Homo sapiens: one gene and its partners. The protein of the gene in region 2 purifies or fractionates together with the protein of the main gene of each other region. This does not show direct contact. Each region holds a gene or a part of one and is shown on either strand. Other genes may lie near its edges.

What was found.
Region 1: the proteins of CFAP141 (region 2) and ESF1 purify together in Homo sapiens (affinity purification with mass spectrometry; one large-scale study listed by BioGRID and IntAct). This does not show direct contact.
Region 3: the proteins of CFAP141 (region 2) and MYH4 purify together in Homo sapiens (affinity purification with mass spectrometry; one large-scale study listed by BioGRID and IntAct). This does not show direct contact.
Region 4: the proteins of CFAP141 (region 2) and UTP11 purify together in Homo sapiens (affinity purification with mass spectrometry; one large-scale study listed by BioGRID and IntAct). This does not show direct contact.
Region 5: the proteins of CFAP141 (region 2) and RRP36 purify together in Homo sapiens (affinity purification with mass spectrometry; one large-scale study listed by BioGRID and IntAct). This does not show direct contact.
Region 6: the proteins of CFAP141 (region 2) and RABL6 purify together in Homo sapiens (affinity purification with mass spectrometry; one large-scale study listed by BioGRID and IntAct). This does not show direct contact.
Region 7: the proteins of CFAP141 (region 2) and SLTM purify together in Homo sapiens (affinity purification with mass spectrometry; one large-scale study listed by BioGRID and IntAct). This does not show direct contact.

The regions. Positions count from the first base shown.
Region 1 is NC_000020.11:13,771,420-13,774,919, forward strand, and holds part of ESF1 (ESF1 homolog), read right to left. Parts: intron 1,197-3,500; coding exon 1,096-1,196; intron 65-1,095; coding exon 1-64. UniProt on the Homo sapiens protein: May constitute a novel regulatory system for basal transcription. Negatively regulates ABT1.
Region 2 is NC_000001.11:154,200,960-154,203,333, reverse strand, and holds part of CFAP141 (cilia- and flagella-associated protein 141), read left to right. Parts: intron 1-2,374. UniProt on the Homo sapiens protein: Microtubule inner protein (MIP) part of the dynein-decorated doublet microtubules (DMTs) in cilia axoneme, which is required for motile cilia beating.
Region 3 is NC_000017.11:10,466,760-10,470,861, forward strand, and holds the start of MYH4 (myosin-4), read right to left. Parts: upstream 2,801-4,102; 5' UTR 2,778-2,800; intron 2,578-2,777; 5' UTR 2,529-2,577; intron 185-2,528; exon of another isoform or gene 26-184; 5' UTR 1-25. UniProt on the Homo sapiens protein: Muscle contraction.
Region 4 is NC_000001.11:38,019,234-38,022,733, reverse strand, and holds part of UTP11 (probable U3 small nucleolar RNA-associated protein 11), read right to left. Parts: intron 3,482-3,500; coding exon 3,351-3,481; intron 36-3,350; coding exon 1-35. UniProt on the Homo sapiens protein: Part of the small subunit (SSU) processome, first precursor of the small eukaryotic ribosomal subunit.
Region 5 is NC_000006.12:43,024,623-43,027,360, reverse strand, and holds part of RRP36 (ribosomal RNA processing protein 36 homolog), read right to left. Parts: intron 2,377-2,738; coding exon 2,229-2,376; intron 2,099-2,228; coding exon 2,032-2,098; intron 1,325-2,031; coding exon 1,220-1,324; intron 232-1,219; exon of another isoform or gene 184-231; coding exon 109-183; intron 2-108; coding exon 1-1. UniProt on the Homo sapiens protein: Involved in the early processing steps of the pre-rRNA in the maturation pathway leading to the 18S rRNA.
Region 6 is NC_000009.12:136,828,448-136,831,947, reverse strand, and holds part of RABL6 (rab-like protein 6), read right to left. Parts: intron 3,455-3,500; coding exon 3,402-3,454; intron 2,556-3,401; coding exon 2,464-2,555; intron 992-2,463; exon of another isoform or gene 925-991; intron 228-924; coding exon 87-227; intron 1-86. UniProt on the Homo sapiens protein: May enhance cellular proliferation. May reduce growth inhibitory activity of CDKN2A.
Region 7 is NC_000015.10:58,881,680-58,885,179, reverse strand, and holds part of SLTM (SAFB-like transcription modulator), read left to right. Parts: intron 1-1,393; coding exon 1,394-1,554; intron 1,555-3,500. UniProt on the Homo sapiens protein: When overexpressed, acts as a general inhibitor of transcription that eventually leads to apoptosis.

The DNA of each region.
Region 1 (3,500 bases), on a different chromosome or scaffold from region 2:
TACTACTGCATAATAGTACTTCAGTCGTTTGAATTGATAATCTCTCAATTTTTCTCTAGACGTCCTAAAGTGGGAAAAACTTATTAAGCATACTTATACAGAAACACAAAAATTTCCCTTTAAAAAATAAATGTAATTCTTTCAAGAAAAACATATTACAAGCTGGCCTTCATACCAAACCATCTTTCCTTCATGACTTTGCCTTTATAAACATTAAATACTTAAGCTCAACTTATTATTCTCACAAGGTACAGATATTTGGATTGGAATTTGGTATCTAGGAAAGGAGTGTGTGGGAATTCGTGTGTTTATCTATAATTTAACTCACAGAATAGTTACTTTGCTATTACACACTGCCTTCTCAAGTAAAACCAATAAAGATAATTCTATTATAAAATATGCTAGAAAACCATTAGCTAAAAGACATTCCTGATCTTGCAAAATGTTTGCTTAAGAGTCTATAAGTTTGATTTTGCTTAACTACAACACATTCTTTTTTTTTTTTTTTTTTTTAAGGTTCCACACAAAGCACTGATACAACTCTTTCTTTGAAGGTCTTCATCTGCTCTCTCCTGTCACTAATCTATTTAACCCTCATTTTTATTAAGTGCAAATATAGCTCCACCTAGTGGCTTAAAAACTATCTTAAATTATTTTCTATATTGCACCATGATGATAAAAAAAAAAGTTTTATCATTCTTTCACTTTTCTATTTGATTCTCAAATAAGAAAAAATTATATAATTTGAAGGCAAACAGAGCTTCAATGATGTCTCAAAAAAAAAAGCAAAACGTACTAATTCAGAGCAACGAGGCTGAAAGAATTCAAAAGAACTCCAAATCAGTTTAATCATGAAATGTTTTTCAAAAACTGCAATAATTACTTTCATGAATACAGAAATAGAAATATACACGAACAAAAATCTTCTTGGAATAATGTACCACTTTTAACAGACTTTAAATCTGTTTTGCAACCTGTTTTAACCACGAATGGCACAAGTATAAACTTTAGTTTTAACTATTAAGGTGACCAGAATTCTGAACTAATGACATGAATTTATGAGGTTTAGTTTTATGTTCTATAGTGATTTAATACCAGTCTTTTTCTGGGGCATCTTCAGGAATACTTAATAGCTCTACTGGTCCTTGAACTTGCTCTTCCTTCATCCTCTCCTTTCCAAATTCTGAAGGATATATCTAAACAGAAAAAAATAGGATCAATGTAATTTGTACATTCCTTTACACAAATATCTAGACCTGTCGAAGTCAGGAACTCTAAAAGTCACAACTTGACTCAATGAAAACAGTAAGGGTGACTCACTTCCAAATCCACTATAGGAAGCTAGAGCATCTTGAGAAATTTTATTTAAAAATAGATCACTTTGGCTAGAGACTAACAAGATACGAGGCTTGGAAACAAAAATAAGAGTATCTCCTCCACATACCACCTGGGACAAGATGGTTCCGAGATCCAAACGAAAAATTAAAAGCAAAACAAGATGCTAAGCTCAAGGAAATGTGAATAAAAACACACACATGAAAAATGACTGAATTAGTTTACATGAAATACAGAAAAATAAACATATAATGAAGATCAATTTTGTAATAACCAACTTATCTCTGTCATACCATTTATCCAGTGCTTTCTTTTAAAGAAATAGAACAGAACTGACGACAACCTTATACAGATTAGGTATAGTCTCGATATAAGAAAAAGAATTCACTCTCACCAGGTGTGGTATCTTCTAAAATCTTGCCTACTTTAAGAGTCAAGAAATAATTGTATTAATGACATTGTTTTGATACTACTAGGCTTAATATACATTTGTTAATGAACACATGCTTTTTTAAACTGTCTGAAATATGCAATTTATCAACAAGATGATCCAAGTTTTTCTTACTAACTTGAATAGTATATACACAATAGGTTTAATATGTAAGTTTATAATATATATGTAGTCACATCTTTTGATTCTTTTTTTTCCTCTTTTCTAAGTCTAGAAATTCTCACTATTGCCTAAAACACAGGGTTTTTAAATTGTTTCTTTGGCTTGACTTTTAATTTTTTTTTCCTTTGCTTCATCTAGAATTTCGCTGGAGCTATTAGGAGGTGAAGATCTGAACCAAGTTCTCTATCCAATGACCTGTTCATTTGTCCAAATATTCAAGCAGCCTATTTTGATCTAAGTTATCATATGAACTCTTTCTATCTATTCTGTTCTACCAATTTGTCCCATTTTTACCCAAACCTGTCAACCCCCATAGCATCATGAAATGTTTAGATATTGTAACTTGTAGGGTGAGTTTTTACACTTGATCTTAGCCAAAAGGCCGAGAAGCGACAGGGTGAGTTTTTATATTAGCATGATTTCTCAAAAGTTTATTAGCTAGTCTAGGCCAGGCGCGGTGGCTCACACCTGTAATCCCAGCACTTTGGGAGGCCGAGGCGGGCGGATCATGAGGTCAGGAGATCGAGACCATCCTGGCTAACACAGTGAAAACCCGTCTCTACTAAAAATACAAAAAATTAGCCGGGCGTGGTGGTGGGCGCCTGTAGTCCCAGCTACTCAGGAGGCTGAGGCAGGAGAATGGCGTGAACCCGGGAGGCGGAGCTTGCAGTGAGCCGAGATTGCGCCACTGCACTCCAGCCTGGGCGACAGAGCGAGACTCCATCTCAAAAAAAAAAAAATAGTTTATTAGCTACTCTTAATTTGTTTATTCTTTTAGATGATTATTGGTATCCTTTTTCTTAACTTTGACTTGAACTGGGATTTTGATCAAAATTACCCTAGAACAGTAGACATAACATCTTTAAATATTTAAACAGAATAATACAGGTTGAGCATCCCAAATCCCAAATCCAAAATTCCAAACTTTTTGACTGTCAACGTGAGGTTCAAAGGAAACGCTCATTGGCGCATTTCAGATTTTGGAATTGCGATGCTCATCCAGTAAGTATATATAATGCAATTTTATTTCAAAATCTGAAATTCTAAACACTTCTGATCCCAAGCATTTTGGATAAGGGAGACTCAATCTCTAATAATGATTGAGGGCAGGGCTATTTCAGGCACTGCACTAAATACTTAGTTCAAGCTCCTTTATACTTAATCCTTACAATCACCAATACTATTGTTATATCCATTTGGATATATTGGAAAGATGTAAACATACTTGAGAGATTAATTAAGTGTCCAGGATCACATAACACTTACGAGAATCAAGATTTGAACCCAGGTCTGCAATAATGCAAAGCCTGGATTCTTAATTATTAGGTTGGCTTGAAATATGGTATCCTCAAAATTTATGTAAGTTTTTCAAATTTATCAAGTGTTACAGTTTACTTCACATAGGTCATTTGTGTTTATTAAGGTAATTTCCAAGAACTTTATGTGGTTTTGTTTCTAGTATAATTAGATTTTTTCCTTAATTGGCCAGTGTTAGCAATAAGGAATGCAATTTATTGTTAAAAACACTTCTTATATGCTGTCCCTTTACTGA
Region 2 (2,374 bases):
AACCAGAGATCGCACCACTGCACTCCAGCCTGGGCAACAGAGCAGGACTCTGACTCAGAAAAAAAAAAAAGTAAAAACTACAGTCATTCCCAACAAAGTATATATATATATATATATATATATATATATATATATATATATATATATATATATATATATATTTGCCCAGTCAGAGATAACAACTTTTTTTTTTTTTTGAGGCAGAGTCTCTCTAAGACAGAGTCTTACTCCACCACCCAGGCTAGAGTGCAGTGGTGCAATCTCGGCTCACTGCAGCCTCCACCTCCTGGGTTCAAGTGATTCTCGTGCCCCAGCCTCCTGGGGAGCTGGGATTACAGGTGTGTGGCACCACGCTCGGCTAATTTTTGTATTTTTAGTAGAGATGGGGTTTCACCATGTTGGCCAGACTGGTCTTGAACTCCTGGCCTCAAGTGATCTGCCCGCCTCAGCCTCCCGAAGTGCTGGGATTACAGGCATGAGCCATTGCACCCAGAAAGTTTTTACTTTTCACTTAATGTATTTTTTTTTTCCTTGGGACGGAGTCTTGCTCTGTCGCCCAGGCTGGAGTGCAGTGGCACCATCTTGGCTCACTGCAAGCTCTGTCTCCTGGGTTCACGCCATTCTTCTGCCTCAGCCTCCCGAGTAGCTGGGACTACAGGCACCCGCCACTGCGCCCAGCTAATTTTTTTATATTTTTAGTAGAGACGGGGTTTCACCGTGTTAGTGAGGATGGTCTCGATCTCCTGACCTCGTGATCTGCCCGCCTGGGCCTCCCAAAGTGCTGGGATTACAGGCATGAGTCACCGCGGCCGGCCTCACTTAATGTATTTCTGTGTAGATTCAATTTTTTCAACATGTGGAAAATGTACTTTTGATTTTTTAAAAATGCCAACAGTAGATATATGTACATGCATGATGTATATTTATATTCTTTCTATATATTAAAAAACTTAAAACTGGCCTGGCATGGTGGCTCACTCCTGTAATCCCAGCACTTTGGGAGGCTGAGGCAGGCTGATCACTTGAGGTCTGGAGTTCGAGACCAGCCTGGCCAACATGGCAAAACCCCACCTCTACTAAAAATTTAAAAATTAGCAGCCAGGCATGGTGGCTTACGCCTGTAATCCCAGCACTTTGGGAGACTGAGACAGGTGGATTACATGAGGTCAGGAGTTCAAGACCAGCCTGGCCAACATGGTGAAACCTCTGTCTCTACTAAAAATATGAAAATTAGCTGGGCGTGGTGGCATGCACCAATAATCCCAGCTACTCAGGAGTCTGAGGCAGGAGAATTGCTTGAGCCCAGGAGACAGAGGCTGTAATGAACCCAGATTGCGCCACTGCACTCCAGCCTGGCTGACACAGTGAGACTCTGTCTCCAAAAAAAAAAAAAAAATTACCTGGGCGTGGTGGTGGGCGCCTGTAATCCCAGCTACTCAGGAGGATGAGGCATGAGAATTGCTTGAACCTGGGAGGCAGAGGTTGCAGTGAGCCAAGATCGGGCCATTGCACTCTGGCCTGGGCGACTGAGCGAGACTATTTCTCAAAAAAAAAAATTAAAACTTCAATGAAGATTCCAGTCTAGCCAGGGCTGAGAATCACTAGTATGAGGGAAGGGATATTAACTTTAGAGAAATTGGATTTGGGGCCAGGCGCGGTGGCTCATACCTGTAATCCCAGCACTTTGGGATGCTGAGTCAGGCGGATCACCTGAGGTCAGGAGTTCGACACCAGCGTGGCCAACACGGTGAAACCTCGTCTCTACTAAAAATACAAAAATTAGCCAGGTGTGGTGGCACATGCCTGTAGTCCCAGCGACTCAGGAGGCTGAGGCAGGAGGATCACTTGAACCCTGGAGGCAGAGATTGCAGTGAGCCAAGATTGCCTCACTGCACTCCAGCCTGGGTGACAGAGTGAGACTCTGTCTAAAAAAAAAAAAAAAAGCTGGATTTGAGTCCCAGGTCTGCCATTAAGTGACCTTGGGCATCTCACAACTTTTAGTTTCCTTACCTGTATCATGTAAAAATTAATGCCTATGGGCCAGGCGCGGTGGCGCATGCCTGTAATCCCAGCTACTCAAGAGGCTGAGGCAGGAGAATCACTTGAACCCGGGAAGTGGAGGTTGCAGTGAGCCGAGATCACACCATTGCACTCTAGCCTGGGCAACAAGAGCAAAACTCTGTCTCAAAATAAATAAATAAATAAATAAAATAACACCTATGCCACATAGTTACTGTAATGATTAAATGATATTATGTACTTAATACATACTAGGTTCTAAATTACCCTTTTAAGGATTTTACAGTCTTCTAACAGTGGGGCAGAGGTTCCAGGTGAAGAAACAGTCTTGGGCCAGGCGTGGTGGCTCACACCT
Region 3 (4,102 bases), on a different chromosome or scaffold from region 2:
GATGGCAGTACTGGACTAGGTATACCTAGAGGAAGAAACAGAGCCAAATGATGATTCAGGGTTGGGGTGGAGAATTGTTCTGTTGATTTCATATTAATGTGCTTAATTTTCCATGCTTGTTTCCTCACCCCTGCCTTTAGGGACCACTCCTGTATACTATGTCAAGGAGCTGAGAGATCAGCTCATTGATTTGAAAGCACTATGTTGATAGCTTAATTTTTGTGATACTTTAAGCCTAAGTTCCATCCTCTATGTTGTAAACCTTAGTTGAGAAATGTGGAGGAATCAACATTCAATCAGCAACATTTGTGATGCTCCAAGCATGTTCAGAATTTTTTCTTTTTCTTGCTACTTTTCTTTTCTTTCTTATTTCCAACTTCCCCCTCTTAACATCGTGATGATACAAAGAAATGGACAATAACTGTTTCCACTGGCTTTACAATATAAATGAACCTGTCTTAAAAACTCAAATACAGATCTTTATGCAAATTTTCCTCTCATCCCAAATTATTAAAATTGGATGTCAGATTTACTAAAATTGAATGTAGACAGATACACCTGTTCTTTCCGGACATAAGTCCAGATCTAATCATTACAAATAAACACCTAGTTAACTGACAGGTATTAGGTAAGTAAAGGAAAAAATAACTACAATGAAAGCTGAATATCCAACATATAATTTTGCCCTAAGTTAAAATTAAAATCTCCTTTATTAGTTTTGAAATTGTTTGAAAGTCAGAAGTAGTATCTAAACCAAAAACAACTTTAAAAGATTCTTGGAGAAAAGGAACTTCTTAATTTTTAATAAAATTTTATAGTGATTGTATGTGTTGATCTGTATTTCTCTTTGTTTTTAGTTGGATTTCAACCTAACATATTTTAAAATCTGATTCTTATTTTCTTAGGTTTATAATCTCGTTCTTTCTTCTCCTCTTTTTAAAAATACCAACCAGTCTTCTAAATATTTTTCTGAAATGGATAGCCAGTATAAAGTTTCAAGCCAAAATGAACTTAAAAAATTTTCCCTACTGACAAATTAATTATGAGAAAATAAAATAAGTCCTGCTGTCCTGATGGCAAGGACAGGGTGAGTGGCCAGAATAAAAGAAGGTGACCTCTGTGGAGCAGAAGTGTCTTGGTTGCCAATGACAATGACAGCAATGATGGCGACAACAGCAATAGCCACCACCTTCTGTAGGCTTTCCAGAGTCTTGATCTTTTGTCATCAGCATTAACTTTCCCTCAACTTAAAATGTTAGCTATGGAATTTCCACATACTCTATTTTCAAAATCAGTCTTATCTGTAAAAGTGTCCTGATGACACTGTGAAACTTAGACATATTTTCAGGGGATATATATTGGAACATTTAATGTCAGGTTTTTTTTCTTTGAAGAAGAAATGTTATTTATATTACATTATATTTTGTTTCTGTGTTTGTTTTTACACCAGGCAACTTGAATTAACAACACACTACCACGTGGAGGTTACTATAATGCAGTGTATCCAGGAAACACAGAAAGATGATTGCTACCCTTCCCATCTCCTGTCTTATTATAGATTAATTGTTTCCCAACTTGGGGATCAAGCCCCAATAGAGCCTCAGGTTGTTGCAGGGGGTTCTTGAATCCACCCACACAGTGATCATTGCCTCAAGTTTAAGGAAGGAACATTTCCACATGAACAGTGTTTTCTGTTCTTTTCTAAATGAATATAGCTGCTATGTTAAATATAAACTCATTTAAAATAATTCTTAAGTGTAGAATAGGTTTTCATGATTATATATATCCTTAACATCATACTAAAAGTACATGTCTCCACATGAACAATTAGCAGGATTCCATTAGTTTTGATTCTCCATTAGCAGGGTTCCATTAAATGTTTTGATTCTGTGGAGGAGTCCTTGAAAACCACTGACGTCAATCACAGTTGGCAAGAGCTGGAAGGACCTTAGCAGTCAATAGAATCCAGCCTCCTCGTTTACTGATGAGGAAACTAAGGCCTAGAAAGGTTCAGGGTCATTCAGTGTCATAGTGGTGGGTGATAAGTGGCGGTACTGGGACATGAGTCCTGTTCCGCTAAATGCAGGTTTGTTAATTCCACTTGCAACACACTGTATTTCAAGATACATAAAGGCTAACTGGCTTGACCCAGGCAAATAGAATCAGTGAAAAGCCTGGATTGGCACCTAGAAATATCGACTTCCAGATAAACACACCTTGATTTTATCATGCGGTCTCTCTGATATATCTTTATGGGTTAAGTTGGAGTAGTAGTTCACATTAAATATTACATATGATGGCTGCATTCTTTCTGTAGTTCTAACAACATGTGAAAGAGAAGTTTCATTAAGTTTTGTTTGATTAAGTGGCCTGAAAAGTCAAAATTTTATGAGAAGGCATTTTTAAAGAACAGCTGCCCCGATATCCTATTCCCAATACTAAACTAGGAAATAAAATGGTAGCTCATTAAGATGTAGCAATATAGAGATTCCTTTGTTCTTTAGAGTGTAATAATAAATTATTCTTACCTCTTGTATTATCAGATGAAGAAGGTGGCAGGCTCAAAGCAGACAACTACTGTTGAAAGAAAAAAGAGAATGTGGGATGCTTTTTTTTCCCCATTTAATCACAAAATACTAGTAACTATATTGTCTACAATGTCGTCCTTAAGAATGTTGGAAAGAATAATTAAAATTTGGGAAGCAGTAGACATCCCTTAAATGAAAAATCATCATCATCAGGAATGTAAAAGTAAGTGTTCTTCCACATATACATACCTTCAAGAATTTTGAGGAAGGATGGGAAAGAGGCATCTCAGCTCCACTTTTATAGAGACCATTCTGCAAACACAGCAGCCACCTCAGCTGTCCTAGCTGGGAACCTACTTGGCAAAACCGTTTTTGGCAATCTCTTTGCACAATATTCACTGACTGTGGCTGTGAATGGATATAATTAGAAATATTTCTTGACACCCATAAATAATTTAACAGAGGATGATCTAGGGTTCTTTATAGGCATTTGATAGGGGATGGGGATTCAGGGCTTCTAACACTGTTTCTCCAGTTTGGCTGTTGCATCATTCATCACAGAATTCAAAGCCAGATTCCCACTTACTCCTCTGCCTATAAAATTGGTCCAACAGAATGAGTCTGATGTGAGGAATTTAGGATTAATTAATTTGTTGGTTCTTAGAGCCATTAAGGAGTCTGGAATGAATTTTAGACCTGACACTATGATTGGAAGCAGTGAGCGATGGATTTTAAGACAACATTCCTAGCCACAGTCTGGATTTTAGAAAGACTGGCGATAGATTCTTTTAAAGTCTGAAAGTCTAAATATGAAGGTGAAAGTGAATTCTCAGATTAGGCAGTGGTGATGGACCACTGGGGGAGGCATAAGGGATTTAGAATAGATATAAACACTTCTGTTCTTTTTCTGGAGGACTTTCCATGGATATCTCCAGCTTGTATGTTTTCACTGAAGGAACAACAGGATGCTGTGTGATGTTCCATGCATGTTTCCTCTGCATAATGGAAGGAGACACAAACATGCATTCCTAGTTCATGGGCAGACTCTCATGACTAGCTATAGCTCTAATGAGGTGGGAACCACATATTTTTATTTAAGGTGGGAGGAAAGTCATGGTATCCACGATATTCTCCCTGTGGATTGAAAAGATGGATGGGCCATCACATATGCCCATAATACTCATAAATTGGCTTTTGATGGTTTTGCTACATACACAGCTGTTACTGAATATGGCAGGAAATATACCTACTCTAAGTGTGACCCTAACTGAGCTCTGGTGAGATATTTTCAACTATCATTAGCTGGCTTAAATTACCAATTAATGAGATCACTGTTTTTATAATTCTGTTGACTTAGAATTTATCTTTGACACATTGATAGATTGAATCTTTTATACTTTAAAAATTTATTTTGATAAAATTCTATGAAATAGGTCATCAGGCGTTAAAAACAAAATCTCCATGAAAATAACTCACCGAAGTCTAGCGACTTACCCAAAGTGCTAGGCTCTAGGCCAGAAGGAAACTTGTTCTATTTTTTCTCTCAGATTTTCACAACTCATTTATTTTTACTT
Region 4 (3,500 bases), about 120 Mb from region 2:
CAGTTATACTGCTTTTGCCTTTCTTTAGCTATTCGCTGGAGAAGAAACACACACATTCTCAGTGAACAATGAACAGGACAAAAATGAGTAAGAAACTGTTTCTTAATCCATTTAAGCCAACTGCATAGTTTCATCAACTCCCTTCTTTCACCAGAATCAACATAACGTGGTAACAATAACGTTGCCCATTTTAGGAACATCACATTCTGGAGCTGAAAGGAACCCTGGGCCAGACGCAGTGGCTCACGCCAGTAATCCCAGCACTTTGGGAGGCTGAGGAGGGAGGGTCACTTGAGCCCAGGAGTTCCAGACCAACGTAGGCAACATAATGAGACTCTGTCTCAAAAAAAAAAAATTAAAAATTAAAAAAGGAACCCTGTAGACTATCTTATCGAAACCCGTCATTTACAAACGCAGAAAAATGAGGCCCAGAGAAGAAGTGGTCCAAGGACACACAGCTCACCTGGAGCAGAGTCAGGACCGTCCCCCTCTCACAAATCCCAGGAATCTTTCCACTACTACACTAAGCTGCTTCAACCTTTGTGTGAGTGCCACAGTCACCTGAGATGATGGCAGGAATGAATCAGTGTTGGAAACCCTATACAAAGTGAATGGAGAGCAACAGAAGAGTCGGCAACAGAAGGGTCCCCAGGCAGTGTGCTGGTGCCTGAAAATCTTACCACTCAGAAAGCAGAAGAATTTTTTCAGCAGAAGCTCACCTGAGAATTCTCACTGCTAATGACTCCTCAAAGATCAGTGGGGTCCTTACATTTTGGGGAATCATCAACCTCAGAGAAACTGATGAAAGCTTTGGGATCTTTCTTCTTTTTTTTTTTTTTCTGAGGCGGAGTCTTGCTCTGTCGCCCAGGCTGGAGTGCAGTGGCACTATCTCGGCTCGCTACAACCTCCGCCTCCTGGGTTCAAGCAATTCTGCTGCCTCAGCCTCCCTAGTAGCTGGGATTACAGGTGCCCGCCACCACGCCTGGCTAATTTTTGTATTTTTAGTAGAGACAGGGTTTCACTACATTGGCCAGGCTAGTCTCGAACTCCTGACCTCAAGTGATCCACCTGCCTTGGCCTCCCAAATTGCTGGGACTACAGGCATGAGCCACCACGCCCAGCATGGGATGTTTCTTGAGATAAATGTACATACACATTTGTAAAAGGTTGTGCAAGCACATATACCTATCTGCACAAAATACCAGTGAGAAAGGGGGGTTTTCTCAGACCTCCTAAAGCTCACTCATGGGTTGTCTACCCACTCGAAGTTACAGACAAAATATCCTTGCAATCCACCCACCAGCAGTCTCTTAATAAAAATGATTTTGCAGTAAACAAAATAGAAAGAAACATAATTACTAGACAAAAATGGCAAAAATCTAAACCTCCCTAACTTCTCAAAAGCTATGCTGGTGAACTATTCTACATGGGAATTTGGAATACTAATCTCTTTAGGGACTACCACAATTCTTGAGAAGCGTCAGTGACACGGCTAATTGAAAGTACACCTAATTGCCGGGCGCGGTAGCTCACGCCTGTAATCCCTGCACTTTGGGAGGCTGAGGTGGGTGGATCACAAGGTCAGGAGTTCAAGACCAGCCTAGCCAAAATGGTGAAACCCTGTCTCTACTAAATATACAAAAAATTAGCCAGGCGTGGTGGCGGGCACCTGTAATCCCAGCTACTCGGGAGGCTGAGGCAAGAGAATTGCTTGAACCCAGGAGGCAGAGGTTGCAGTGAGCCGATATCACGCCACCGCACTCCAGCCTGGGTGACAGAGTGAGACTCCGTCTCAAAAAAAAAAAAAAGTACACCTAATTGACAAACAACAGGGTTATCACAAGAACACTCATGAGCAAGCTCTTTGGCTGGAAGTGTTATCTACAGAAGGAAATATTACTGGGCCTTAGACTTCAACAATTCACAGATTCTAGCACAGTCTCACAGCAGTGGTTTCAGACAGCTTTTGTTTTCGCTTTATTGCACAGACTGTCAGATTTATGGGATTACCCAATATAGTCAAACTAATTAGGGGTATTTATATTACTAAAGCAAGTTTAGCTGCCTCTGAGCTAGAGAAAACTGCTGTGAAATTAAACATTGGAAGCAAAACTGATGCAGTGTAAATGATTCAAATCAAAACAGAACAGCTGTCTGCTTGAAACACATTGACAGCATTTTTTTTTAATGAATCAGTCAGAAGAGTTCAACTCCAGAAGGCTTTCAGGAAAAGCATGTCTTCTGCACAACCCAGTTACAGTGACGGAAAGCACCATAAGGAAAAGCCAAAACAAAATTTTTGTTACAATACACAATATGAAAGACCTTTTGGGCAGGCATGGTGGCTCACGCCTGTAATCCCAACACTTCAGGAGGCCAAGGCGGGAGTAAACACTTGAGCTCAGGAGTTTAAGACCAGCCTGGGCAACTTAGCGAGACCCCGTTTCTACAAAAAAAATTTAAAATTAGCTAGGCATGGTGGCACACACCTGTGGTCCCAGCTACCCAGGAGGCTGAGGCAGGAGGATCGCTTAAGCCCAGAAGGTGGAGACTGCAGTGAGCCATAATCACACCATTGCACTCCAGCCTGGGTGACAGTGAGACCCTGTCTCAAGAAAAATAAAAACACAGAAAGACCTTTTGATGTGCGTATTCACTGCTAAAGGTTCAATATTAAAGTATTGCAAATCCTTTAATCTTCAGCAATCCCTTTCTCTGCATTTTCAAAACACTGGCATCTGTTACAAGTATTAAAAGCACAAAGCGCAGGGTCAGAATTGGGATTCAAACCCAGGTCTAAAGGCCAGAACCTAAGCTTCTGACCACTATACCTCCTCCGATCATAGAAATTAGGAAGCCCTTCTCCACTTCCATCCCATCATCAAATCATCCTACAAATCCACTTTTCTAAGGGAACTCATGAGTTTTCCATAAATAAATAATTATTTTAGGCCAGGCACAGTGGCTCACGCTTGTAATCCCGACACTTTGGGAGGCCAAGGCAGGCAGATCAACTGAGGTCAGGAGTTCAAGACCAGCCTGGCCAACATGGCGAAACCCCATCTCTATGAAAAATACAGAAATAAGCTGGGTGTGGTGTTGCACCCCTATAGTCCCAGTTACTGGGGAGGCTGAGGCATGAGAATTGCTTGAACCCAGGAGGCGGAGGTTGCAGTGAGCCGAGATCGTGCCACTGCACTCCAGCCTGGGAGACAGTGAGACTCTGACTAAAAAATAAAATAAAATAAATTTTAAAAATTATTTTAAATGCAGTAGCAAAAAAAAAAAAACAAAAAAAAAACACCTAGATTCCCCTAAGCTCACATGTGAAGAACAACAGAGAAAATTACCTTAAGTCCAGTCTGATTGGTAACTCCTTTCACTTTTTCTTTCTGCAAGGTCTCTATCCTGGGCCTATTAAAGACTCTGTCGACTAGCTCCGGGGCTGTTTGCAGGTGAGTTGCGACATCAAACTGTTCAACTAAAATTCAAGACAATCC
Region 5 (2,738 bases), on a different chromosome or scaffold from region 2:
CCTGAGGAGCAAAGATGAGATGGGTGAACGGGAGGGATCTGTTCAGATCTGTGAATATCTCCCACCTTTAATTGCTTTCATTACCCACCACAATTATTACCCACTCACCATTCGCTGAAGCAGTTGCTGCAGTTTCTCATGCTCCTCTCCTGAAAGGTGCTTCTTCAACTGTTTTTTCACAAGCTCCACATTGGAAAATGAGTATCATGGTTAGCATTCTGCAAATGTTAGCTGAAATTTTATGTAAAGCATTATCCTAAGAAGTTCACACACATACACACACACACATTTTTTTTTGAGATGCAGTCTTGCTCTGTCACAGGCTTGAGTGCAGTGGTGTGATCTTGGCTCACTGCAACCTCCGCCTCCTGGGTTCAAGCAATTCCCCTGCCTCAGCCTCCCAAGTAGCTGGGACTACAGGCACGTGCCACCACGCCCGGCTAATTTTTTTTTTTATTTTAGTAGAGACTAAATTTCACCATGTTGGCCAGGATGATCTTGATCTCCTCCTTTTGTATTTTAGTAGAGACTAATTTCACCATGTTGGCCAGGATGGTCCCAATCTCCTGACCTCGTGATCCACCTGCCTCGGCCTCCCAAAGTGGTGGGATAACAGGCATGAGCCACCGCACCCGGCCAGAAGTTCACATATATTAACTTGATAACACCAAGACAGTAACTGTTTGTTTGGAGACAGTCTTGCCCTGCTGCCCAGGTTGGAGTGCAGTGACACGATCTTGTCTCACTGCAACCTTTGTCTCCAGGGCACCAGCAATTCCCATGCCTCAGCCTCTTGAGTAGCTGGGACTATAGGCATGCAACACCACACTTGGCTAATTTTTCTATTTTTAGTAGAGATGGGGTTTCACCATGTTGGCCAGGCTGGTCTTGGAACTGCTGGCCTCAAATGATGTGCTCACCTCAGTCTCCCCAAGTGCTGGGATTACTTACAGGCGTGAGCCACCACACCCGGCCTCCAAGACAGTAATTATTATTTTATTTTTTTATGATTAGAAAACTAAAGCATAGAGAGATTAAGTAACATGCCAATAATCACACAGCTAGTAAACTGATGAGCCAGGATTTGAATATGAACTGAATTGGAGAGAGTTAAATCTGCCCACCACTATACTTCCCACTCCCCCTGCCCAACTCTCTAACCTGTGCCCTCATTTTCCACCCCACAAAATTCCCCATAAACCAGTCTCAAGCTGTATACCTCTTTCTCTTTCGCTCGGATGTCATTCAAGAATTGGTATGTTTTGTCAAACACCTCAGGATTATATTCCCCTGACAGATCATCAAAGCGAGGGTCCCGGGCTACCTTTGGAGAGAAGAGAGAGAATATAAAACACAACTGTTCAATCTCCTTTCACTGAGAAAAAGTGCTTCCTGTCTCTTCCTCATCTTTCTTTTTTTTTGCTTTTTGAGACACAGTCTCGCTCTGTCGCCCAGGCTGGAGTGCAGTGGTGCAATCTCGGCTCACTGCAAGCTGTGCCTCCCAAGTTCACACCATTCTCCTGCCTCAGCCTCCTGAGTAGCTAGGACTACAGGCACCCGCCACCACGCCCGGCTATTTTTTTTTGTATTTTTAGTAGAGACGGGGTTTCACTGTGTTAGCTAGGATGGTCTCAATCTCCTGACCTCGTGATTCGCCCACCTTGGCCTTCCAAAGTGCTGGGATTACAGACATGAGCCACTGCGCCCGGCCTCTATTTTTTTTTTTTTTTTTTTTTTTGAGACAGAGTCTTACTCTGTCCCACAGGCTGTAGGGCAGTGGCATGATCCTGGCTCACTGCAACCTTCACCTCCCAGGTTCAAGCGATTCTTGTGCCTCAGTTTTCCAAGCAGCTGGGACTACAGGCACACACCACCATGCCCAGCTAATTTTTGTATTTTTAGTAGAGACAGGGTTTCACCATGTTGGCCATGCTGGTCTTGGAACTCCTGATCTCAGGTGATCGCCCACCTCGGGCTCCCAAAGTGCTGGGATTACAGGCGTGAGCCACAGTGCCTGGCCTTCTTCCTTACCTTTTTACTAATGGGAACAACCTGACGTAAAAATGGTACTCGGATCTTGGCTGACATTTCCAGAGGCCTATGGAGAAATTAAAAGCCAAGTCAAGAGGACTCCAGTGTTGGTCAAAGGCTTCCCACCTGTCACCCAAGACAACATACCTATTCAAGGTCCCAGTTATCTTCCAACTTCTAGGGCAAGCCTTGCTTACCTGTGCTTATCTGCAACACATGCATTTTGGATAGGTGGTCTAGAAGCTTGTTTCTTAGGACTATTTCCAGCTACCAATTGTTTGTACGTCTTAGTCCCCACTTGGCTCTGCAATTCCAACAGCTCCTCAAATGACATGTTAGATGTGCCTGTGGAAGTGGGGAGGGACATACAACTCAGCTCAGCATGTCCCACTGCAGAAAAGACATCTTCCCATCCCCATTCCTTAGCTAGCTAATCCTAATACCCCATCAGACCAATCATTATTAGAAGTCCTAGGCAGCAGAGGCTGTGATAGTGTTAAACTCTCCAACTATTTCAGCAACCTGGGGCCTCATCTTGCTAAGGAAGGTGTATATGTAAGGTCAAAGGTGCACCAAACCATAGTCCCTTCTTTTTCTCTTTTACTCATTCTTTTACTCTCTCTTTTACTCATTCACAGGTTTCCCCAGAAGGGCATCTGCCTCCCTTGCTCAGTTACCATTGCCAGTGTCCTGGTCCACATGCTCAG
Region 6 (3,500 bases), on a different chromosome or scaffold from region 2:
CCCTCCCTGGGCCTCTGCCTCAGCACCCTCCCCCGCACACCGGAGCACCGGGCAGGGTCCCTCGGGAGCAGGGCCACCGCACCCACCTGTCCAGGTTGTCGATGAAGTCACGCACGTCGTCCGGCAGGATGACTCGGTGCTCGCCCATGTCCCGGTAGTTTCCCAGCACGCACACTGGCACGTGGGTGGGCACTTTTGGAAGCTCCCGGAGAATGTAATTGAAGGTCCTCGGAGAACAGGTGAGGACCTGGCTTAGTTTCAGCCCTGCGACGCCCTGTCCCTCCCTGGAAAGGTGCTGTGCGCCCAGGCCCGAGGATGGTGGCTGCTTCTCATTTCCAACATCCAACCCAGCAGAAGCATGCCTCGTGCATGCAGAGCTAGAGGGAAGTGCCTCGAGGGCCTTCGCACCCCTCAGCCTGCAGCCCCCGCCCGTCCCTCTCCCTGACGGCAGGTACTTGACCGCACCCCACACTGGAACGCCCCTGCCTGTCCCTGCCTTCCCTCAGAGCACCCCATGTCCGCATCCCTACAAAACCACCTCTGGCTTCATCTGTGTCCACCCTCATTCCGCACTGTCCTCTGTGCCCCTTGGTGTCGACCCTGTGGCTGGTCCTCCAGGCTCCCTGCCCACCGGGGCAGCCGAGGACACCCTGGGGTGCCTCTGCGGCTGCCGGTGAAGCGGGCTGTTTGGAGAGCCTTGTCTTAAGCAGACATCTCCTGGCACGGACGGCAAGTCTCCAGAGTCTGCCTGGCGTGGAACTGCCAGTTTCCCAGCTGCGTGGTTTTCCAAATGGCTTGTGAAGAAATAACCAGCGCTTCAAGTGACAAAACTTCCCCACGACTGAAAGCCAACATAAGGGAGTAAAAAATGCAACATCCTGTTTCTAACTTCATTTTCTTTCATTTACACGCAGTCATTTAAACGGGCCCCTCACCAAGGCCGGCCCAGGGGCACCTCTGGCCTCCTAAGCAGGTGGCCTTCTGGTGTCTCCTGCCTCTCGTGGCTGTGAAGGGCCTGCGTGGTGCTTGAAGCCGCTGTCTGAGCCAGTGTTTTCCATCCTTCCTGCTGGGCACCAGGGGCTCCAGACAGAGCATTGCTACCATAGGCATCGCCTGCCCAGGCTGGTGCTGCCAACAGGGTCTCCGGGCCCACAGGTAAGCGCCTTTGCCGCGTCTTCTCAGGCTGGCTCAAGTCTCGCTGTCACTCCCGCCCACTCCTCGCACGGCAGCCCAGGCGGCTGCAGCTCCCTCCAGGCCGTTCCTGTGGCAGCAGTGGGAGGTGCCGTGGAGGCCACACTGTGTCCACACTCAACTTCGCTTGGGAAAAGCCACTTCCCACCCACCAGGCTGGCCTGCTGCCTAGACAGGAGAGGCCGGAGGGAGAGGAGCACCACTGCTCGCCCAGGTGAGGCCAGCGTGTGCGCCCGAGCTGAACTCGTGCCCTGGGGTGGGGCCGCCAGCCCCGTGTGTGGTTCTCCTGCCATCCGTGTGCCACACCCCCACCGAGGGCTCTCCTGAGGGTGCCTGCGGTCAGTCCTTGGTGGTGGTGCTGAAGGCTGGGAGGGCAGGCATGGTTCCCAGCATTGGCAAAGGTTGGCAGAGGCCCAGAGCATGGCTGGTCAGGTGCTTCAAGCCGCCCTCAGGCCTGGGCTGCTGATGCGTGCTGAGTGTGCGGCCCCGTGACAGGCGGTACGCTTAACCCTGGTGTGGGGGTCTTCCCAAGTAAGAGAAGCTGCTGACTAGGCCCCCAGGCCAGACCCACTGCTGGGAAGAGCAGATGCCTGGACGTGTCGGGCATGCTGCTCCTGGTGCTCCGGGCACTGGCTGTGGCTAGGAGGGGCCCTGCACCAGGACACTGGTCTTCACGCGGCCCTCGTTCTTCTAGGAGCCTTGTGCCAAGTGTGCGTCCGCAGCACCCCCCCGCTGGGGCTCCGGTGCGTCCTGGGGGACACTGCACTCCTGAGGAGCTGAGTGGATCCCATGCGACTCCACAGTGGACTCTGGGGGCTTGCGCCTGGTCCCCCAGAGATCGTCCTGTGTGCCACTGCCCTTAGCTGATTTCGCTGTCATCTTCTTGCTAGAATGAATCTTGGCTGTGGGTCCTCCTAGGTCATGAAGACGGAGGTCGCGGGGAGCCCCCAGCACAAGCAGCCACTTGCTTCCGCCAAGTCTCAGATGGGTTTTCAGGAAGAACAGTGGGGCTATGGAAGGTGCGTGCCTTGCCCCAGATGCCTTTTGCAGCCGGCCCACGCCATCCCGCCCCATAGGCACAGGCATAGTCGTTGCCCAGCCCGACATCCAGGCCAGTGCCCCTTGTGGCTGAGCTGCCACAGCTGCCCAGCAAGAGTCCCTCGGTCCTGCAGAACGATGCTGCTCTAACCATTATCTGCTGCACAAAGAGGGCGCCCAAGGGGCTAGGGGGGTGAGAGTCACAGGCAGCTGCCCCCGCCAGCTCCCTCTTACCACTGCTTGGTAATGTCGAACATCATGACCACCCCGTTGCAGTTCTTGTACACGTCCAGGAACTCAGCATCCAGGGCCATTTCAGACTCCGCCTGGGGACAGGAGGGAACAGGTGTGAGACTGGCCCAGGCTGGGCCCCACCCGTGTGGCCCACAGTTTTAGAAAAGGCTGGATAGTCTTCTAATCTGAAAAGATAACAGCCATTTCCATTTGGAAACGATATGCTGAAGAGATGGGATAGCTAAACATAGGTTTGCCCCAAAGGGTCTGACGGTCAACACCAGCCTCGCTGATGGCTCCCTGAACAAGCCTCCTACCCAGGACCTCCCACTGATCACAGCAGTGTCCGCCCCAGGCCTCACGGATAACCAAACCACCACTCGAAAATAGAAGTGGGTGCTGGACTACCAGCTGCCCTCAGCTAGATGTGCGTTCCGGAAGGTTCCAGTGCCCACAAACAGGGTTAGCTGCAGTGCTGTGGGCAGAGTCACTCCACCCCATGCTCTAAAGGGAGTGGGAGGCACCGCACGGAGAGTGCGAGGCCCTGGGTGTGTCGGGCTCAGGTTGGGTTGGCCCCAGGTGGCTCCGGTGAGCGAAACTCACGCCCATGGCGCTGCGAGATGTGTCCTGTGCTTTGAAGGGCCGAGCCCACCGAGACTGGGATAAAAGTTTGGCGAGTTCACTTAAATACCTCTCAGGTCACTCAAATGCAAATAGGGGTCAGTCCAACGTGATGTCTGTCGAGTGCAGGTGAGCCGGCCACCCCCAGATACAGCCATGGCAGTGTGGGGTTTTCAGAGCAGTTGGGAAGGCCAGCGGCCCCCGTGGCCACAGCATAACTGGGGTGGTTGGGGTCAAAAGCGTGTGAAGCGCTGGGCACCGGCTCACGCACCCCGGGGCCCTGAGCCACTGCTACCCACTGTGTACCTGGCACTCACCTCCTGGGGGTCGTTCTCCATCTTTAAGCCGTCGCCTCGCTTTTTGCATTTTCCTTATTTAAAAACAAACAAAAATTACGAGGTGGAACCCCTGGGCCT
Region 7 (3,500 bases), on a different chromosome or scaffold from region 2:
ATGGATGTAGCACCTTGTAAGTGCCATAGCACTAAGTAGTACAATGTAAAATAAGTTCACAACTCCTGTTTGCTGTGCTGTCTGCATGTTGTCCTGATAGGCTGATCATAGGCCCTGCCGTGCCTTGTCTTAAGGTTTTGATCTCTGGCTGTGCCTTCTTACAGTCAATATAAGATCCAAGTATTTGAAATAATCAAGGGTCAAAAAGCCCTTGGGTGCTAGAAAATACAGAAATACAAATTAATGGCCAGGCCTGGTGGCTCGTGGCTGTAAACCTAGCACTTTTGGAGGCCAAGGCGGGAGGATTACTTGAGGCCAAGGGTTCGAGACGAGCTTGGACAATATAGTGAGACCCCCATCTCCATAGGAAAATTAAAATTAAAGATGGGCATGGTGGTGTGCACCCTGTAGTCCCAGCTAGGCAGGAGGCTGAAGCAGGAGAATTGCTTGAGCCCCAGGAGTTCAAAGTTGCAGTGAGTTACGGTAGCAACACTGTACTCCAACCTGGGCAACAGTGTGATCATGTCTCCAAAAAAAAAAATTATTTTTTAAAAAAAGGAATTGGCCAGGTGTGGTGGCTCACACCTGTAATCCCAGCACTTTGGGAGGCCTAGGCGGGCGGATCATGAAGTCAAGAGATCAAGACCATCCTGGCCAACATGGTGAAACCCCGTCTCCACTAAAAATACAAAAATTAGCTGGGCGTGCTGGTGCATACCTGTAGTCCCAGCTACTTGGGAGGCCGAGGCAGGAGAATCGCTTGAATCCGGGGGGCGGAGGTTGCAGTGAGCCGAGATCGCGCCACTGCATTCCAGCCTGGCAACAGAGCGAGACTCTGTCTCAAAAAACAAAACAACAACAACAAAAGTATTAAATCATTTCCTCCATACCCTTCCCTGAGACCTGAGTAGCTTCTCACTACAAAATAGATATAAACTCTTTTCATATGCTGCTGCACTACTCATCCTTTTATCTTCTCAGACATCTTATTAATTTGCTTCTGACATTAAAAGCACACCAATATAAGTTGGTATGAGACCAAGACTGAGGGTATTGTGACTTCTCCTTTTTTTTTTTTTTGAGATGGGGTTTCACTCTTGTTGCCCAAGCTGGAGTGCAATGGCGCAATCTCAGCTCACTGCAACCTCTGCCTCCCGGGTTCAAGTGATTCTCCTGCCCCAGCCTCCTGAGTAGCTGGGATTATAGGTGTGGGGTACCATGCCTGACTAATTTTTTGTATTTTTAGTAGAAACGGGGTTGCACCATGTTAGCCAGGCTGGTCTCGAACTCCTGACCTCAGGTGATCCGCCTGCCTCAGCCTCCCAAAGTGCTGAGATTATAGGTATGAGCCACTGCGCCCGGCCAAGTGACTTTTCATATGCTATTCTTTTAGCACTATCCTGAGGAGCGACATGTGGTTGAACGCCATGGACGGGACACAAGCGGACCAAGGAAAGAGTGGCATGGTCCACCCTCTCAAGGGCCTAGCTATCATGATACGAGGCGAATGGGTGACGGCCGGGCAGGAGCAGGCATGATAACCCAACATTCAAGGTAAATAACTAACCAGTTTTTCTGCCAGCACACAACCAACACTTTATCCTTTCCATAAAAGTCATTATAGTTTCTGAGAGACTGAATTGCAACTACTGAAAACCCTAGATCTGCCTGAACATTTCCCTGTATCAACCCGTAGTCTCCAAAAGAGTGTTTGCAGAACAGCTGATATTAATGTGTTAGTTTGTATTCTTCCTTTTAAATGAATTCAGTGACGTTCTGGCAAGTTGATATAGATATGGGTATGTACGTATGGCAGGATCCAGTAAACAATGAATTCTTTTGTTTTGTTTTGTTTTTTGTTTTTTGAGATGGAGTCTCACTCTGTCGCCCATGCTGGACTGCAGTGGCGAGGTCTTGGCTCACTGCAACCTCCGCCTCCTGGGTTCAAGCAATTCTCTCATCTCAGCCTCCCAAGTAGCTGGGATTACAGGCATGTGCCACCATGCCCAGCTAATTTTTATATTTTTAGTAGAGACAGGGTTTCACCATGTTGCCCAGGCAGGTCTCGAACTCCTGACCTCAGGGGATCCGCCTGCCTTGGCCTCCCAAAGTGCTGAGATTACAGGCGGGAGCCACTGCACTCAGTCTAGATAATGAATCTTAACCTCACATTGGAACCATCATCTTGTTCTCTACCTAGCATTCCTCAAATTCTTAGGAAGAAAATACTGAAAGTGTGTTCTGTTTCCTCCCTTTTAAAATAACTCTTGGGAAGGCTTTTAGACATTTAACACAAAATCTCTTCATACGTTAAGAGGCGAGCTTTACTTTCTCTTCACACTGAGGTCGGATGTGGCCCTTCAGCCAGCAGGTCTTCAGCTTCCCCATCTCTTTCATGTCCTCCTTTCTTTCCCATTCCTCTTTCTTAGGAGAGTTATTGGCTTGACTCAGTGACCCAGGTCACTACTATTCCATGGTCACTTCTACCATCAAACTTCAGTAAGTGTGCTACTTCTGCCTGCACAAGCTCAACATTCATTGTATCTGGTTTGTAAAGGTCACCGATGACTTTTCTCTTGATAAATATAGATTCTTTTATTTTCATGGTTGTCAGACTCCTTGGTGGTTAAACACTGTTTCACACGGTCACTTATCTTTATTTTGAGGGAGTCTGTTTTCTAGGGCACCATCATTTTCTTTCTGCCTTTGTGACTGCCTTTGCAGGCTCCTTCCCGTGGCTAAGCTTTAGACACTGCTGTTTCCTTTCAGCTTCATGTTGCCACTGCCATGTAAGTGCTTTGCTGTTTCCATGAATTCAAGGTCACAGTCAAACTCATTCCTCTCCTTTTTCAAACCTTTGTGTCCCTTTTGTTGCCTCCAGTTTCTTTCAATTTGATAGTGCCACCATCCATTTCATTCACCCTGACTGGAAATACGGGGCTTGTCCTTACCTTTCTTCATTCCTAGTATAAATTTCTAAGTGTGGTTTTTTTTTTTTGAGACAGAGTCTTGCTCTGTCCAGGCTGGAGTGTAGTGGTGCAGTCTCGGCTCGCTGCAACCTCTGCCTCCTGGGTTCAAGTGAATAGCTGGGAATACAGGCGTGCACCACCACGCCCAGCTAATTTTTGTATTTTTAGCAAATGGGGTTTCACCATGTTGGCCAGGCTGGTCTTGAACTCCTGACCTTGTGATCTGCCCACCTCAGCCTTCTAAAGTGCTAGGATTACAGGCATGAGCCACTGCGCCCGGCCGTGTGGCTCTATTTTTTTTTAAATGTTTCTCAGGCTGGGCACAGTGGCTCATGCCTGTAATCCCAGTACTTTGGGAGGCCAAGGTAGGTAGATCACTTGAACTGAGGAGTTTGAGACCAGCCTGGGCAACATGGTAAAACCCTGTCTCTACAAAAAGAAAGTTTATCATAGCTATCCCTTATTCCTCATTTTAGCTTCTATCTGATCTTCCCAATTATTGTGTTCCATTACCCCATTTGTAAATTGAAC